Linked DNA regions of Homo sapiens. The protein of the gene in region 1 purifies or fractionates together with the protein of each later gene. This does not show direct contact. Each region holds a gene or a part of one and is shown in the gene's direction. Other genes may lie near its edges.

What was found.
Region 2: the proteins of ZNF284 (region 1) and DIAPH1 purify together in Homo sapiens (affinity purification with mass spectrometry; one large-scale study listed by BioGRID and IntAct). This does not show direct contact.

What each region holds. Positions count from the first base shown.
Region 1 is NC_000019.10:44,082,062-44,085,712, forward strand, and holds part of ZNF284 (zinc finger protein 284), read left to right. Parts: coding exon 1-44; intron 45-3,651. UniProt on the Homo sapiens protein: May be involved in transcriptional regulation.
Region 2 is NC_000005.10:141,528,471-141,532,121, reverse strand, and holds part of DIAPH1 (protein diaphanous homolog 1), read left to right. Parts: intron 1-2,424; coding exon 2,425-2,519; intron 2,520-2,848; coding exon 2,849-2,950; intron 2,951-3,180; coding exon 3,181-3,420; intron 3,421-3,539; coding exon 3,540-3,651. UniProt on the Homo sapiens protein: Actin nucleation and elongation factor required for the assembly of F-actin structures, such as actin cables and stress fibers. Binds to the barbed end of the actin filament and slows down actin polymerization and depolymerization.

The sequences.
Region 1 (3,651 bases):
GTTTTGGATCATGGAGACAGCAACCCAAAGAGAAGGGAATTCAGGTAAGAACCAAGCAACGATGCATCCTTGTACGTGACCCTTCCATCTGTTTTACTTCTGTCCATTGCCCAACTCCATTGCCCTGGTATAAATGGCCAAACCTGTTTCCTGGATTCTTACCTCCTTCCTGCTGGTTGTCCTGCTCCCCCACCCCCTCTTCCCACCCTGACATCTGTTTTCCTCATAGCAGCCAAAGTGATCCTTAGGGAATGTAAGTCAGATTGCCATTCCTCAGCTTAAAAGCCTTTATGGCTTCTTATTTGTGTTAATGTTACAACTGCTTTAAGTGCCTTTTAGAGACCCTTGATCTGCTCTTCATCCCCTACTGCCTCTCTGACTACATCTCCATTTTCCAGCCACGTTGTACTCCCTGCTGTTTCTCCATCCTGCCAAGGACACTGTATTGCCTGTTGCTGTCACCCAGTGACCACACACTTAGCAGATTAAACAACAAACAATTATCTTTCTGTTCTTCAGATCTGAAGTCTGACACATCTCACTGGACAAAAATCAGGGTGTCCCTAGGGCTTTGTTCCTGTCTAGATGTTCTTGGGGAGAAGCCTTCACTTTAATTTACCAATCCCTAGGCACTGTCCACACTCCTTGGCTCTTGTCTCCCTTCCTCCATCTTCAAAAGCAGCTACATTGCATCTCTAACCATTCTTCCATAGTCATCTGCCACCCTTCTTAAGCCTCTGTTTTCCACATTTTGGGTCCCTTGCGATTGGATTGGTCACTCCTGCATAATCTAGAATGACCTTCTTACTCTCTCTTTAGCTGACTAGTGACCTTAATTGCATCTGCAGCCTTAATATCTCTTGCTATATAACATAACAGGTTCATAGGTCCTGGGAATTGGATGTGGACATCTTTCAAGGACCATTGTTCTGTCTACTACAGAAGCTTCTGTCTTAGAGTTTATATATGCTCTTCTTTCTGATTGGAATACTCTTTCACCTCAAGACCTTCTGACCCTTCCTTTATTCTGGTCTCTGTTCAGTTTTAATATCATGAGAAAGGCCTTCTCTGACCACTCTATTTAAAATACCAGCCGGGCGTGGTGGCTCATGCCTGTAATCCCAGCACTTTGGGAGGCTGAGGCAGGCAGATAGCATGAGGCCAGGAGTTTGAGACCAGCCTGGCCAGCATGGCAAAACCTGACTCTACTAAAAATATAAAAATTAGCTGGGTGTGGTAGCACAGTCCTGTAATCCCAGCTACTCGGGTGGCTGAGGCGTGAGAATCACTTGAACCCAGGAGCCAGAGGTTGTAGTGAGCTGGGATTGTGCCACTACACTCTAGCCTGGGTGACAGAATGAGACTCTGTCTCAAAAAATAAATAAAGAAATATATATATATATATATATATATAGAGAGAGAGAGAGAGAGAGAGAGAGAGGGAATGGAATACCATCCTATCTTTACCCTTCTGGTGTTGTCTTATACTGTGTCTTATATATTTCTATTTAGCTGTCATCTCTACCCACTGGAATGGAATGTCTTAAGAGGAGGACTTTTAGCTGTTCAATTTTTATTTTAAGATTCAGGGGGTACATGTGCAGGTTTGTTACCTGGGTATATTGTGTGATGCTGAGGTTTGCATTGCAAATGATCCTGTCACCCAGGTACTGAGCATAGTACCCAATAGTGGTGGCAGGATAACCCTCAGGTTTTAAGGCTATGTGTACCGGTGTTAGAGGTAGTGGTGATGGGCTGGGTGGGCCAGTCCTGAGGCCCCCACATGGTGTGTGCAGGTGAGTGTCAGCGGTGATGGTGGCAGCAGGCTTGTAGGACCTGTCCTCAGGTCACTAGGAGGAGTATACAGATGCCAGTGGTGGTGATCAGGGCAGGGAAATCCTTAGGTCTCCAGACAGCATGCTTGGGCACCTGCGGCAGGGTTCTGGGTCTGTTGTAAAGCTCCCTGCATGGTACATGCTCATGCCTGGGGCAACCAACATGGCAGGGTGATCTCAACAGCCCCAGGTGGTATGCTTAGGTAGTGGAGGAATGACGCCAGGCCAGGTGAGCCTGTCCTCAGGCCTTTCAGTGGTGCAGGCAGATGTAGGCTGTGGTGGAAGAGGCGGCGTGATCCCTAGGTCCCCAGATGGCATGCTCCAGCACTGGCAGCACACAAGCTGGGTCTTTGTCAGGTCTCCTGTTTGTGCACACATGTGCCTGAGGCAACACAGGGTAGAGCAATCCCCAGGTCCCTCTGTGTCATGCTCTGGCACTGAGATGGGCGGTACCAAGTGAAGTGGGCTTGTCCTGTGCACGGGCACAGGTTGTGGTGGGCAGTGCAAGGGACTCCCCATGCCTTTAGGAGGTGTGCTTGGGTGGCAGTGGCAGAGTGTGCAGAGAAACTTTCCTCAGAATGAGAACACATATGAGTGTACAGTGGCCCTGCTGCTGGGGGTGAGGTAGCATTGCCGTTAGAGGCAGCAGCCCCAGACAGGCAGCTTTCAAGCTCTGGTGAGTGCACACACTTTGGGTCCCTTTGTACTGTACTGGGGGCAGCCTCCCTGGTGTCCTTCACGGCCCATTCCCTAGAGTATGGGACACTATGTGGCCTAGATTGCTGGGGACTCTGCCATACTGCTGGGTCTAACAGGCATTATTGTAACCCTCTGGGTGGATGTGGGGGCATGTCCATGGGGCTTCAGGGATTTGGAGATGCAAAGGCTGTTGGGCCCCAGGGCAAGATGCAGTCTGGTGGGGGTGCAGCTCTCAAAATAGCGCTGTGCCATAGCTGCTTGAGTCTCAGGAAGTGTGTGGGTCCCATCATGAGTACCCTCTCTGAGTGCCATTGCATGGACTCCAGGTAGCCCCCTGTGCTAGTCTCAGGGCCCACAGGGGTCGAGGGCCTCTCTCATGGCTGATTGCTGGAGTGCACAGCGGAAATGTAAACCACTAGGGCTCTCTCACTTACCCTTTCCCAGCACTAGGAGCCTTTCCCGGCTTTCAGGTGATCACGGCCAGAAGGGCTACCTCCCTTCGCTCTCCTTTTGTGCTTCGGGTGTTTCCTGTCACTTCTCTGCTGAATTCCAGTGATCCCTCTTAGATGCTATTTGATGTATGAGTATCTATTTGCTTTTTAAATTTTTTAGTAATAAAATATATAGAACACTTCATGAATTTGCATATCGGCCTTGTGCAGGGGCTGATCATTCCAGTTTTACCATATGTGCTGCTGAAGTGAGCACTACTCATTATTTTGGCTCTTTGTGGAGGACGCAAGCTCTGGGTGTCTTTAGTCAGCCATCTTGAAGTCCTCCTACCCTTAACGTTCCTTCTGATTCATCACATATATAATTTAGTAGTTACATAATATACCATGCAAGATTTTAGACTAACTAGGAAATTGGTAGAAATAGTAACACATTAACTGTATTATATTAATATTTTAAATTAAGTCTTTCATTTCTACCACGTATGAGACATTATGTCATTCAAAATTGGTTTCGTGACAACGAGAGACCGTGGTGCACTTGGAAAACACAAACTGTACCTTCCTTGTATTCAGTAAAGTTTCAGGCCATGTCCTAAGTGAAATCCTGAAAACACTGAACAAAGGTTTCACTTACCCACATCTCTTAATTCTGTGTCCTTATA
Region 2 (3,651 bases), on another chromosome or scaffold:
ATGAGAGCATGAGATAACATTGTGCAGTTCAGGAACTGCAAGTAGTTGAGTACAACTGAGTAAAGTTTAAATCAGGAAAATGAGTGAGATTATCCTGTGTAATTTTTAGGAAGGCTGCTTTGGCAGTGATTTTGAGGCTGGATTGCTTTTTATCCTGTGTAATTTTTAGGAAGGCTGCTTTGGCAGTGATTTTGAGGCTGGATTGCTAAGGTAAGGGGAGACTATAGGCAGAGATGAGTTATGTCATTGTTTTAAACTAGGTGAGATGTGATCAGGGCCTGAAACTAAGGTGATGAGAATAAGAGAGGGAGAGGATATTAAGATGGTAGAATTAGGCTAGGTGCAGTGGCTCATGGCTGTAATCCCAGCACTTTGGGAGGCTGAGGCAGGTGGATCACTGGAGGTCAGGAGTTCGAGACGAGCCTGGTCAACATGGCAAAATGCTGTCTCTACTAAAAATAGAAAAATTAGCTGGGCATGGTGGAGCACGCCTATAATCCCAGCTACTCATGGGGCTGAGGCAGGAGAATCGCTTGAACCCGGGAAGCGGAGGTTGCAGTGAGCCAACACCATGCCGTTGCACACCAGCCTGGGTGACAGAGTGAGACTCATCTCAAGCAATAAATAAATTAAAATAAAAAACTAGCCAGATGTGGTGCCGCATGCCTATAGTCCCAGCCACTTGGGAGACTGAGGTGGGTGGAGGATTGCTTGAGGCTGGGAGGTCCAGGCTGCCATGAGCTATGACTGCACTGCTGCACTCTAGCTTGGGCAACAGAGTGAGATGCTGTCTCAAAAAAAAAAAAGAGAGAGAGAGAGAGAAGGTAAAATTAATGGAATTTAGTGATTGACTTGGGATAAAGGAGAAGGTGCTTTGAGGTTTAGGTCACTCTGCGGAAAGTGGTACCATTTACTGAAATAGGAAAATTCAGCAGGAACAGATTGTCTTTTCGGGGAGGTGGATGTGAGAGGTAGCAGGTTGGTGTCTTACTTAAAGTATATTCTCTAAGTGGCTGCCATCTTTTCATTGGCTTTGTGGTTATGGAATAAATCAGAGTCGTGGAAGTGAGAGAGAATAGGCTAGTTTAGATTGCTATAAAGTGAAAGAAAGAGAAACTGGTAATTTAGAGAGGAACATTGAGTAAGATTTAAAAAACTTGATTATGTATATATGATGAAGGGAAAGGTCTGTGGGGCTGCCTCTTCTGTTGACACATGAGGAAAGGATGAGTACATGGGAGTATATATACTTAGACGTAAATATATGAACACATGCCTCCTATAAGCTTACGAAAATGTTGGTATAGTTTTCTTCTAGGCGATTCCAAAAGGCTTATCTGAGTCTTTTCTAGTCTGGCTCTAACCAAGAGCCCTAGTGCTTTATTTTTAAGTAGGATAAGAGAAAGCTGAGCAAGTAATTTGACCAGTGGCTTTGATTTTTCTCAGTGAAGAGGAGCAGGGTCTTCCTGGAACAAATGGGGAAGTGGTGGGGCAGTGGGGAAAGTGGGAATATGTTGGAGGACCTGCCAAGAAGGGTGGGAGAAAGTGGAATTGGGACACACAAAGAGAATTGCTAACAGCGCGGAGGCCCCAGTTATCATTGGTGCTACTGCAAATTCATAGACTCCAGTCCGCATCAGCCTAGGTGTCAGAGTAGAGAAATGAAATGGCTAGACTGACCAGGGACCCAGAAGGAGAAGGAAGCAAAAGAAAGGTAATAGTAGGAGTAATAATACTAATGGGAGTCATAGTAGAGAGCAAATGAACTGATGGTTTAGAGGCTCCTAATGAAATAGGAAAGGCAGAGTGGAACTGATATATCAGTGAAAACAGAATGGTCAGGAGACTGGAAAGAGAGGTCCTGATAAGGCTGAAGAGTCAAGTGAGAGATTAGAAAGGGAGAGTTGAAAAAACAGGATGTATTTGTTAGGGAATAGGATATGGTGGTTTAAGGTCAAGGCAGCTTTGAGGATCACGTCCTGAGAGTGGGGAACTAAAGTAGAGTGGGGTGAAAGTCTTTGACGTATATATACTTTTTTGAGACGGGTCTCGCTCTGTTGCTCAGGCTGGAGTGCAGTGGTGCGGTCACAGCTCACTGCAACCTTGACCTCCTGGGCTCAGGTGATCCTCCCACCTCAGCCTGCCGAGCAGCTGGGACTACAGGTGCACACCACCACGCCTGGCTAGTTTTTGTATTTTTTGTGGAGATGAGGTTTCCCCATGTTGCCTAGGCTGGTCTCAAACTCTGGGGCTCAAGCGATCCGCCCACCTTGGCCTCCCGAAGTGCTGGGATTACAGGCATGAGCCACTGTGCCTGGCCTAAAAGAGCCCTGTTAGGAAGATTATCCAGCATAGGTTTGCAGGATGGGTTGGAAGCGGGAACAGACCGAGAAGAACATGTCTTAATATCTCATTTTCTGGCAGCAATCTTTTTGGGTTCCTTCCGCATGCCCTATCAAGAGATTAAGAATGTCATCCTGGAGGTGAATGAGGCTGTTCTGACTGAGTCTATGATCCAGGTAAGGAGTAAGGTGGTTCTGCTGGAGCAGGCTCTTCTGTGTCGCTGGGCACTGGCCTCATCTCTGTGTAGATGAAGAGGATCCTCCTCCAGCATTGCTGACTTATGAATGCTGGCTTTGAGAAACTGCCTTTTCTCTGGTGGTCAGATTACTTCTGGTATATTTTGCAAAAGTACCCCCATCTCAGTAGCTGCCTCTCTTCTCCCACCATATGTTTCTTTCTGTATGGTCCTTGAGCAGAGTGTGGGACTGACAACAGAGTAAAAGTTGTTTAGGCTTGAGTTGTTAGCGAATTCCCCTCCAGCTGAGATGTCTCTTCTGTCTTTCAGAACCTCATTAAGCAAATGCCAGAGCCAGAGCAGTTAAAAATGCTTTCTGAACTGAAGGATGAATATGATGACCTGGCTGAGTCAGAGCAGTTTGGCGTGGTGGTGAGTGAGGCCTGTGGCAGTAAGCGGTTTTCCACCTCCTGTATTCCCCTCCCCTCTAGAGAGCAGCCTGGGCATATGCTCCTTGCCGCTTGTCTGTTTTTGAACCTGTCTTAATCTCTCTCTTCTCCCTGCTCTGGAGCTGTGATCCTCCCATAGGAGGCTCAAGCGTGTATCTTTTTCTGACTTCCCCCTCTTTTGACTGTAATGGAACTGCTTGTGTTCTTTACTAGATGGGCACTGTGCCCCGACTGCGGCCTCGCCTCAATGCCATTCTCTTCAAGCTACAATTCAGCGAGCAAGTGGAGAATATCAAGCCAGAGATTGTGTCTGTCACTGCTGCATGTGAGGAGTTACGTAAGAGTGAGAGCTTTTCCAATCTCCTAGAGATTACCTTGCTTGTTGGAAATTACATGAATGCTGGCTCCAGAAATGCTGGTGCTTTTGGCTTCAATATCAGCTTCCTCTGTAAGGTGAGCCAAAGAGGTAGGGCAGGACAACACAAGGAAGGCTGTAGCCTCTATGAGTTCAGTGTTGGCAGGAGGCCATCTTGGACATGTCAGGATTTAACAGTTTCTCCTCTTTCTCTAAGCTTCGAGACACCAAGTCCACAGATCAGAAGATGACGTTGTTACACTTCTTGGCTGAGTTGTGTGAGAATGACTATCCCGATGTCCTCAAGTTTCCAGACGAGCTTGCCCATG